Regions from separate parts of the Homo sapiens genome. Here region 2 is linked to region 1. Evidence: fine-mapped expression QTL. Tissue or cell type: whole blood. Region 1 holds a variant in brackets; the other region holds the start of a gene. All regions are shown on one strand. Distances are between the middles of the regions.

What was found. PIP is the estimated chance that this variant, and not a neighbour inherited with it, causes the effect.
Region 2: TMEM120B starts here. The variant in region 1 is fine-mapped to the expression of TMEM120B in whole blood (TOPMed, PIP above 0.99).

The regions. Positions count from the first base shown.
Region 1 is chr12:121,773,066-121,778,209 of GRCh38, forward strand. It overlaps TMEM120B (transmembrane protein 120B), which reads left to right. Exons shown (of 12, transcript NM_001080825.2): 9 at 356-448; 10 at 1,593-1,657; 11 at 1,997-2,065; 12 at 2,544-5,144. The coding sequence ends at 2,657. It overlaps RHOF (ras homolog family member F, filopodia associated), which reads right to left. Exons shown (of 5, transcript NM_019034.3): 5 at 4,689-5,144. Among named protein-coding and RNA genes, the nearest start is that of RHOF, 18 kb to the right of the region's middle. RefSeq lists silencers at 217-266, 1,918-2,212. The variant CGCGTCT/C (reference allele first, on the strand shown) is at 3,191.
Region 2 is chr12:121,710,379-121,715,522 of GRCh38, forward strand. It overlaps TMEM120B (transmembrane protein 120B), which reads left to right and starts at 2,374. Exons shown (of 12, transcript NM_001080825.2): 1 at 2,374-2,586. The coding sequence starts at 2,518. RefSeq lists silencers at 2,216-2,475, 2,486-2,535, 2,716-2,845.

The sequences.
Region 1 (5,144 bases):
TGTCTTAGCATTGCACAGAGCTCCCAACATAGCACTGGCATAGCTTGCATTCCAGCAAGCATCTATTGAGTGTCTACTGCATGGAAAATTCCAGAAGTTTCAAATCTAGTTGGGGCTTAGATGGGTCCTCACATACCTGTGTTCTCTCTGTGTTCTGGATAAGGGCTAAAGCAGGTTCAGACCAGAGTGTGTGTGTCTGTTTGTGGTGTGTGGGCGTGGGAGAGGGTTGTAACCAGGGCACCCTTTCTGCTTCTGCCCAGTAAAGACCCATCAGCCTGTGCTTGGGGCAGAGAGGTGTGGCCCTGTCTTCCGGGGACACCAGGCCCTGAGCCCAGGTGCTGTGCTCCCCCTGCAGGCTGCGTCCAGTTCCTGCAATATTATTACCAGAGGGGCTGCCTCTACCGGCTGCGGGCCCTGGGGGAGAGGAACCACCTGGATCTCACAGTGGGTGAGTAGCTGGGCCTGGGTTGGAGCCGGGGCAGGTACTGGACCTGCCAGCTCCCCACACCGGGAGTGCAGCCCTGCGAGCACCTCCCATACAGCGGAGCCAGGCCGCTGCCCTTTATCCGAAGCGCCTTCCAGAATTCATCCTGGATTCTGTTTCAGCTGCCAAGTGCCAGGCCAGCTGCATACCAGGCCCCGAGGGCAGGGCCTCTGTCTCAGCCTCTGGAAGTGTCTATTTTTTTGTGTGTGTTCTAGAATACACACACACAAATTAGCCATTTGTGTGTAACATGTCTACATACCAACACGTATAAGTATATAAATGCATGTACACGGGGGAGACATGCCTCACTCTGAAGCCATAGGAGTGCCAGCCAGAAAAGTGAGGAGACACCTCATTGAGAATTTCAGGGGAAACTGTTTTTAATACAACTCTGCTATCTTTTTTTTTTTTTTTTTTTTTTTTGAGACGGAGTCTCACTCTTGCCCAGGCTGCATTGCAGTGGCACGATCTCTATTCACTGCAACCTCCGCCTCCCGGGTTCAAGTGATTCTCCCGCCTCAGCCTCCTGAGTAGCTGGGATTACAGGCATGTGCCACCACGCCCGGCTAATTTTTGTATTTTTAGTAGAAATGGGGTTTCACCTTGTTGGCCAGGCTGGTCTCAAACTGCTGGCCTCAAGTGATCTGCCCACCTTGGCCTCCCAACGTGCTGGGATTATAGGCGTGGGCCACTGCACCTGGCCAACTCTGCTGTCTTTTGACATAGTCATTTCCATCAAATTACTCTCCTAAGTAGGTCCTCCTGTCTCAAGACTCGATAGAACTAATGCATGTGAAAATTCATTATAAAATGCAAAACCCTGTGCAGATTAAAGAAATTAGTAACAACATAGCGCCCAGTGTCTGTGTGTTGTCACCTGGCTCTTGGTGGCTTGAAGAGAGAGAGCAGTCAGGCCAGGTGACAGGGTTGCTATTGTCATAGTGAATGCCCACCCAGCTATGACAGGTGAGGGCTGACCCCCCGCATGTGTGACTGTCCCTGGCTCATCTTAGGGTGACTGGTGTGGCTGGGGGTGGGCGTCTGGTGGAGCTGTGGGGGCAGCGGACCCCCTCAGCGGGTCCTTTTTCTTCCCTCCTCTCCACAGAAGGGTTCCAGTCCTGGATGTGGCGGGGCCTCACCTTTCTCCTGCCCTTCCTCTTCTGTGGCCATGTGAGTCCCCCTGGAGTTTGTGGGTATCTCCTGTCTGGGCTGACCCCCAGGAACAGAAGGTCTTCAGGCCTTGCCCTCCTTCTCCATCCGTCCCCATGCTGGGGCCCACAGCATCCTGGGGCCGGGGCAGCCTCTGGGCCCAGGGATGCCAAGGCAGGAGCCAGAACTGACCTAGCTCTGCCCTGGCCTCGGGTGCCTGCATTTCATTTTGGGGGTGTCTGTCAGTGTTGTGGGTAGTTGATACCCAAAGTTGGGTGAGGGGCCTGGCCATCACCCTGGCTTTCTACGTGGCCGGCCAGGGGAGTCTGGTGGGTGAGCAGCGCCTGCCTTCCTCTCCAGTTCTGGCAGCTCTACAATGCCGTCACGCTGTTTGAGCTCTCCAGCCACGAGGAATGCAGAGAATGGCAGGTATGGGGGGTGGGGGCATGCTCGGGGGAGGTTCCCGGGAGGGCTGGGGTGGCAGGGATGGGGTGTATGTGTGGCATGCTGGGGTGCGGATTCCTGGGGAGGGCTGGGATGGCAGATGTGGGGGTGGGGTGTGTGCGTGTGTGTGGTGTGCTGTGGGGAGGTTCCTGGGGCGGGCTGGGCTGGCAGGTGTGGGGTGTTGTGGGGGGCCTGCTTGGCGGGAGGCTTCTGGAAGGGCTAGGGGTGGAGCCTCTCCCAATCTGTGGATCCCAAGGAGGTTCGCCCCATCGAGCCCTTCCCAGGCCCTGCCCAAGCCTGAGGCCTCACCCTTCCCCCAGGTCTCCTGAATCTCTGCCTTCGATGGCAAAACCCTGCAGTTTGGGAGTTTGGGGGCAGCTGTGCTGGAGATTCTGGGGTGCTGGGGGCAGGGGTTCAGCAGGGCAGATGCCCCAGCCTCGCCCTCCTCTCTGGACTCCCCCAGGTGTTCGTACTGGCGTTCACCTTCCTCATCCTCTTCCTCGGCAACTTCCTGACCACGCTCAAAGTCGTGCATGCCAAGCTCCAGAAGAACAGAGGCAAGACAAAGCAGCCGTGAGCCTCGGGCTCCTGTGCCCTCGGCCCGGACTTCAGACTGCAGGGGGCTCCCGGGCTCCTTCCCAGCAGCCCTCTCAGGCCCGTGGCATCGCTGGGAGAGGGCCCAGGCCCTGGTCCCCCAGTGGACCCCAGTGGTCTAGAGGAATGTGAGCCCCGCCTGTCCGCACAGTGTCCGCCCACCTATTTATGACATATTTAATGCTGGGTCCCCCATCGTCCCTGGAACCCGAGGCCTCACTCCTGTGCTTGAAGGTGGCTGAGGCCGGGCCAGTCTTCCTGGGGATGGGGCCTGAAGCCTCAGGGAGCCCCTCTGTTCCCACTCCTGTCATTTGAACCCCTCTGGGTGGGGTTTGGATGTGCCTCGCGGGGTTGGATTTATGCTGACCTGCTACTTACCAGGCCCAGGCTGGGGTGGTGTGAACCCTCAGTGTCCTGTGGCGCCCCCACCCCGGGGCCACTCTGCTTCTGCTGTGAGCCCCCTCCTCGCCCACCCCGCCACGTGGTGAGGGTTATTTTAAGTTCTCAGAGACCCAC[CGCGTCT/C]GCCTCGTGCTCTTCTTGCCCCTGGAGCGCTGGGGGCATCCTGAGTCAGGCTGTGAGAAGATTCGCCACCAGAGGGCGCCCCGGGCCCTGGGTCGTCCAAGGGGACAAGGACGTTCCCGTCTGTGCTTCGGGGTTCCCTGACCCCCCCATCCTGCAGCCCACCTTCCTGCAGTGTCGTGGCAGGTACTTGGAGAGTGGGACCAAGACCCTTGGCCCCTGTGGAGGGGAACCACCTCCCCCCTCCTTCCCAGAGCTTCTGGATGTTGTGGGAGGGAGGTGGGGGTGCCTGGCAGGCTCACCCCCAGGGGCCGCACCCTGAGGCGGGGTCAGAGCCACTGGGCATCGCTTGGGTGAGATTCTGCATTCGACGGGAGGCAGAGAGGCCACCAGGTTTGGCTGAGTGCTCTGCCCCACCATTCATATATGGGCCTCAGCTCCCCCTAACTGTGGCCCTACAAATCCCTAGGCCAGACCTCACAGCAGTGCCCACAGGCATGCCTTGTTTAGCCCTCCTCAAGGAATTTTAAAATTTTTAATTACTTTTTTTTTTTTTGAGACAGGGTCTGTTGCCTAGGCGGGAGTGCAGTGGCATCATAGGTCACTGTAGCCTCCGCCTCCAGGGCTCAAGGGATCCTCCCACCTCAGCCTCTGGAGTAGCTGGGACCACAATCACACACCACCATGCCCTGCTCCTTTTTTTTTTTTTTTTTTGAGATGGGAGTCTCGATCTGTTACCCAGGCTGGAGTGCAGTGACACAATCTCAGCTCACTGCAACCTCTGCCTCCCAGGTTCAAGTGATTCTCCTGCCTCAGCCTCCCGAGTAACTGGGACTACAGGCGCGTGCCACCATGCCTGGCTTTTGTTTTGTTTTGTTTTGTTTTGTATTTTTAGTAGAGACAGGGTTTCACCATGTTTGCCAGGATAGTCTCGATCTCTTGACCTTGTGATCTGCCTGCCTCAGCCTCCCAAAGTGCTGGGATTACAGGTGTGAGCCACCATGCCTGGTCACCCTGCTACTTTTTAATACTTTTTAGTAGAGATGGGGTCTCACTATGTTGCCCAGGCTGGTCTCCAACTCATGGGCTCAACTCATCCTCCTATCTTGGCCTCCCAAAGCGCTGGGATTACAGGTGTGAGCCACTGTGCCTGGCCTGATTACATTTTTAAAATGAGATTTCCCCACCCCTACAGTGAGATTCCACATAAAAATCCAGATTTCTGCTTTCCCTAGAAAAACGGACCTGGCAACATTCCCGTGGCACAGGACGCCTACTCTCCAGTTGCCACAGGCCCTGCCACCCCCCTGCCCTTCATTCTGGTCTCCTTTCTGGTCCTTTTTAGGCACCTGCGTTTGCCCTAGATTAGGAGTCAGCTAGCTGTCTGTAAAGGGCCAGATGGCAACTATTTTGAGCTTTATGGGCCAGGTGGTTTGTGGCAGCTACTCTTCACCTGCAGCCCCAGAGCACAAGGCAATGCAGAAAGGAATGGGTGTTGCTGTGTTCCAATAAAACTTTATTTACAAATCAGGCTGTGGCCAGATGTGGCCCACAGGCTGTAGTTGTTGGACCTCTACCGTAGACCATCATGAGGCCTGGGGTTCTTCGAGAACAAGAACTCCTTGGTTGATTCCCCAGGGTACGGCAGGGCCTTGGGAACCTGGGTGGGTTGGGGAGGGTCTCAGAAGGCTCCTTCCTTTGGCAACCTGACTTCTTGGAAGCTCAGGTTTAGCTGACGCCCCAGCACTGGGCCAGGGGGGCTGAGGCAGGAGATATGGGGAAGGCTAGGAGTTGCCTGAAGCCATTATCCCATCTTAGGCGACACCGACTCCTAGGCGCCCTCCAGAGCCAAGCAGCTTGCGACTTCTGGTAGGCACCGGAATCCCCTGGGATGCTTGTTTTAAAAGTCCTGGGCCGGGCACGGTGGCTCACGCCTGTAATCCCAGCACTT
Region 2 (5,144 bases), 63 kb before region 1:
GGGGTTTTATGCCCTGGGCTTAGATTATGGTGCATCAGGGCAGCCTTCCACCCTTTAGCACAGAGCTTGGTGTTCCAAAGGCCACAAGGGGTTTTAGACCTTGGACCCTGGACATGTTCCAAGACTCTTTTACATTGTGTCAGACATACAAGCCCTGCCTCAGCTTCTCCCAACACTCAGCTTTTCCCAACACACTACAGCCTCGACCTCTGGAGCTCAAGTGATCCTCCCATCTCAGCCTCCCAAGGAGCTGGGAATACAGGCTTGTACCATAATGCCCGGCTAATTTTTGTATTTTTAGTAGAAATGGGGTCTCACTATGTTGGCCAGGCTGGTCTCCAACTCCTGGCCTCTAGTGATCTGCCCACCTCGGCCTCCCAAAGTGCTGGGATTACAGGCGTGAGCCACCATGCCTGGCCAGAAAGGGTGTCTTTTTAAGAGAGGACACACACAGACATGCACACAGGAAAGAAGACGGTGCAACAGGGTAGAGATTGGGGTGATGCAGCTGCGAGCTAAGGAACGCCAGTGAAGGAGCCCCCCGCCACCACATACACCCACAAGCTATGAGGAGGGAAGGATTCTGCCCAGAGCTTCAGAGGGAGCACTGCTTTGCTGACACCTTCCTCTCAGATTTCTAGATGCCAGAACTGTGAGACAATACATTTCTTTCTTTTCTTTTTTTCTTTCCTTCCTTCCCTCCCTTCCTTCCTCTCTCTCTCTTTTTTTTGAGACTCAGTTTCACTCTTGTTGCCTAGGTTGGAGTGCAATGGCACGATCTCAGCTCACCACAACCTCCACCTCCCTGGTTCAAGTGATTCTCCTGCATCAGCCTCCTGAGTAACTGGATTACAGGCATGTGCCACCACACCTGGCTAATTTTTTTGTGTGTTTTTAGTAGAGATGGGGTTTCTCCATGTTGGTCAGGCTGGTCTTGAACTCCCAACCTCAGGTGATCCTCCTGCCTCAGCCTCCCAAAGTGCTGGGATTACAAGCGTGAGCGACCGCGCCCGGCCTCCTTCTTTCTTTATGAGACTGGGTCTCGCTCTGTTACCCAGGCTGGGGTGCAGTGGTGCAATCATAGCTTACTGCAGCCTTGACCTCCCAGGCCCAAGGAATTCTTGGACCTCAGCCTCCGGAGTAGCTGGGACCACAGGCGCGTGCCACCACACCCAGCTAATCTGTAAATTTTTTGTAGAAACAAGGTCTCCTTATGTTGCCCCCGTTGGTGAGAATACATTTCTATTGTTTAAACTACCCAGGTTGTGGTTATGGCAGCTTTAGCAACGAACACAGGGGGCCGGGCACGGTGGCTCATGCCTGTAATCCTAGCACTTTGGGAGGCCAAGTCGGGCGGATTACTTAAGGTCAGGAGTTCGAGAGCAGCCTGGCCAACACTGCAAAACCCCGCCTCTACTAAAAATACAAAAATTAGCTGGATGTGGTATAACCTGGCTACTCCAGAGGCTGAGGTATGAGACGCACTTGATTCCGGGAGGCGGAAGTTGCAGTGAGCTGAGATCACACCACTGCACTCCAGCCTAGGCGACAGAAAAAAAAAAAAACACCCATAAAAATAGAAGAAAAAAGAAAGATAAAAAAGTAAAGTAACACAGGTGTCATTTGAAACTGAGGCCTGAATGATGAAAAAAAGGCACATCGTATGAAGATTTAGAGGGAAGAAAGTTCCATGCAAGGTCAGGAAGAGAAAAAGCAATGGCTGGAGGGTACGAGTCCAGGGCGGTGAGATAGAAGGGACTGGAAAGCTAGGCAGGGGCAGTTCTTGCAGGACTTGGCAGAGGAGGGGACAGAACTGGATTTAATCAGCTTGGAGGCGGTTGTCCCTTGAGCGACAGAAACAGCTGTTAAGAACGTCACCCAGAGCGTTAGAGGGCAGGAATCTAGGATGTATTAGCTGCAGCACATAATAATGACAACGTGAAATGACCGTGCCCTCTCTGCGCTGCGCCGCCCGGCCCCCGACCTTTTTGGATGGTCGATGTCAGCGCCAGCCTTCCGGGGCGCTGGCCTGGGCTCAAGTCAGGCAATGACCAGGGGCCGGTGAGCTTTCATTTCACCTCCCCCAAATCTCCTTTCCCCAAACTCTAGACACCCCCAAAACACACAATCTAAGTCAAATAATCTCTGCAAATGCAACCTGCAGACAAGTCCCCCAACTCTTCCTGGAAGAGACAGATTCTGGAGGCGCAGAGGCACTGCCAAGGGGGCCGCAACAGACCCCGAAAGACCTTGCGAGCCTGCCATGTCCCGGTCCGGAACGCCGCACGCGGGGCGGGGCGGGGCACATGCGCACGCGCGGCCCCGCCTCCCAGGCGTGGGGCGGGGCGGGCGCCGGGGCGGGGCCGTGACGTCAGTTGCGCGCGTGGCTCTGGCTGCGCAGGAACAGCTGGTGCCTCCGAGGGCGGTCGGCGAGCGCGCGGGCGTGGGGCGCTGGGGGGCCGGTCGGGCAGCGCTGCGGGAGCAGCCGCCGGCACCGCCGCCTTGCACCATCGCATCATGTCCGGGCAGCTGGAGCGTTGCGAGCGCGAATGGCACGAGCTGGAGGGAGAATTTCAAGAACTGCAGGTAGGGCCAGGCCACCTGGTCCCGCAACTCTGCTGCCCGCGGTGCAGCGCCTTGCCCTTCCTGAGCCCCCCGGCCCGGGCGGTGGGGACAGTCAGGGCCTAGGGAGTGCCCCGGAGAGGCCCTGGGGGCGGACGGGAGGCATGGACCAGCCCCCTCCCATCACCCGGCGCTTCAGCTCTTCGTCCACGTGGGGCGCCGGGTCGCAGCCCCCTCTTCCGCCGCCCTCCCACTGGCTCTCTGCTCCACGCACCCCCTTCGCTGCAGAAAGTTGGTCTGTGGCCTCTGAGGCAAGTTCCAGGCGTGTTCATCTGTGGGGGTGGTTCAAAGAGAACAGCCCAGCCCCCACCTCTGCAGGGTCTCCCCAGATCTCACCCCGCCCCCTCCCATCTGCTTTTGGTAGCTCAGCTCCCACCCCGTGCTCTGGCGGGGCAGCACTATCCTGCAGCTCTGTTTTGGGAGGTGTACTTAAGAGCTGTTCACCTTGAACCTCTAGGTTGTGCTTGGGGATTAGGGACCCCTATTTCCTGTCTTTGGGGGCTCTGACGCTGCTGCAGGCTGATTTTGGCGTGGAGAGCATCTGTCAGTTCGGACAGCTGAGTAGCCTCACCCAGTGATAGGGGAAACTCCCAGCTCTATCCTTCTGGCCCGGAGCCTTACACGGGGTGGAGTGAGGGCGGGTGTAAGGCGGGGGTCCCCTGAGAGAATGGCATTGCTGCTGGGTGTGGGGAGCGGTCCTGGCAGCAGTTGTTCCTGCTAAGAGGTTCAGAGAGGCCCCAGCTACCTACCGTGTTGACTAGAGACGCCTCAGGAAACCTTGGGGTTGACCAAGAGGGACTCGGTGACTATTTTTGAAGACAGGGCTGTTCCCTCTCCAGTCACGGGATTGTTTTTCGGGGGGTTGGCTTTGCCTGAAATTACATTGCACACTATCACCCCAGTCCTCTCATTTGGAGCAGTGACATTGTCCCTGTCCATGTACCTCTTGTCTGCAGTTCAGTTGGCCTCCTACAGTGTGCAGAGGGGAGAGGAGGTTGCCAAGGGTGTCTCTGATGGGTCTTTCTAGACACGTGGTTGTAGATTCTGATCAATAGACAGAGGGTTGCTGGAGAGCCGGGGCAGGAATGGGGGTGCCCTTTCAGGCATGAATAGAGGGGAAGGGACCTAGACACATCTCGACCTGTCCAGCATGTGTAGGTTGATGCCTTCTCTTCTAGGGCCTGGGTCCCATCCGGTTCTCAGGGGACTGTTTTGGCTCCACTCCCACGGAGAAGACTCAGCCACTTCTTGTTTTGTTTTGTTTTGTTTTGTTTTTGTGACAGAGTCTCACTGTCGCCCAGGCTGGAGTGCAGTGGCGTGATCTCGGCTTACTACAGCCTCCGCCTCCCGGGTTCGAGCCATTCTCTGCCTCAGCCTCCTGAGTAGCTGGAATTACGGGTGTGCGCCACCGTGCCCGGCTAATTTTTTTGTGTTTTAGTAGAGATAGGGTTTCACTATGTTGGCCAGGCTTCTGACCTCAGGTGATTCACCCACCTCGGCCTCCCAAAGTGCTGAGATTACAGGCATGAGCCACTGTGCCTGGCCCTCAGCCACTTCTTTTTTTTTTTTTTTTTTTTTTTGAGATAGAGTCTTGCTCTGTCACCAGACTTGAGTGCAGTGGCACGATCGTGGCTCACTGCAACCTCCGCCTCCCGGATTCAAGCGATTCTCCTGCCTCAGTCTCCCAAGTAGCAGAGATTATAGGTGCGCGCCACCATGCCCAGCTAATTTTTGTATTTTTAGTAGAGACAGGGTTTCACCATGTTGGCCAGGATGGTCTCAATCTCTTGACCTCGTGATCTGCCTGCCTCGGCCTCCCAAAGTGCTGGGATTACAGTAGTGAGCCACCGTGCCTGGTCCTCAGCCACTTCTTAATGCTTTGTCTTACTGGGCTCGGAGGTCATGGTCAGCTGTGGAACCAAGTGGGTGTTAGGGTTGGGAATGGGAGAAGAGAAGAGGTTTGCTGTGTGAAGCTTGTGTTGTTCATAATTCCTGTCCCTTGCTTTGCCTTAGACAAGGAGGAGGAGGGGGAAGAGTCTTAACACTTCAGAGTGAGGCCCAGCGCGGCGGCTCATGCCTGTAATTCCAGAACTTTGGGAGACCGAGGCGGGTGGATCACAAGGTTTGGAGTTTGAGACCAGCCTGGCCAACACAGTGAGACCCTGTCTCTACTAAAAATGCAAAATTAGCTGGGTGTGGTGGCATGTACCTATAATCCCAGATCCTCGAGTGGCTGAGGCAGGAATTGCTTGAAACTGGGAGGGGGAGGTTGCAGTGAGACAAGACTGTGCCATTGCACTCCAGCCTGGGCAACAGAGCAAGACTCCGTCTCAAAAACAAAACAAAACAAAAAACAGCAACAACACTTAAGAGCTGTGCAATTAATGCAATTAACAGCAATTAGATAGCAAGTCTTGGCAGGCAGAGGTTGCAAAGGAGTTGTTTGACTCTTTCTTAGGACTTGGTCCTCAGATGCTGAGGTATGTTAGGGACAAAGGGATTGGGAATCAATTCTTGATTTT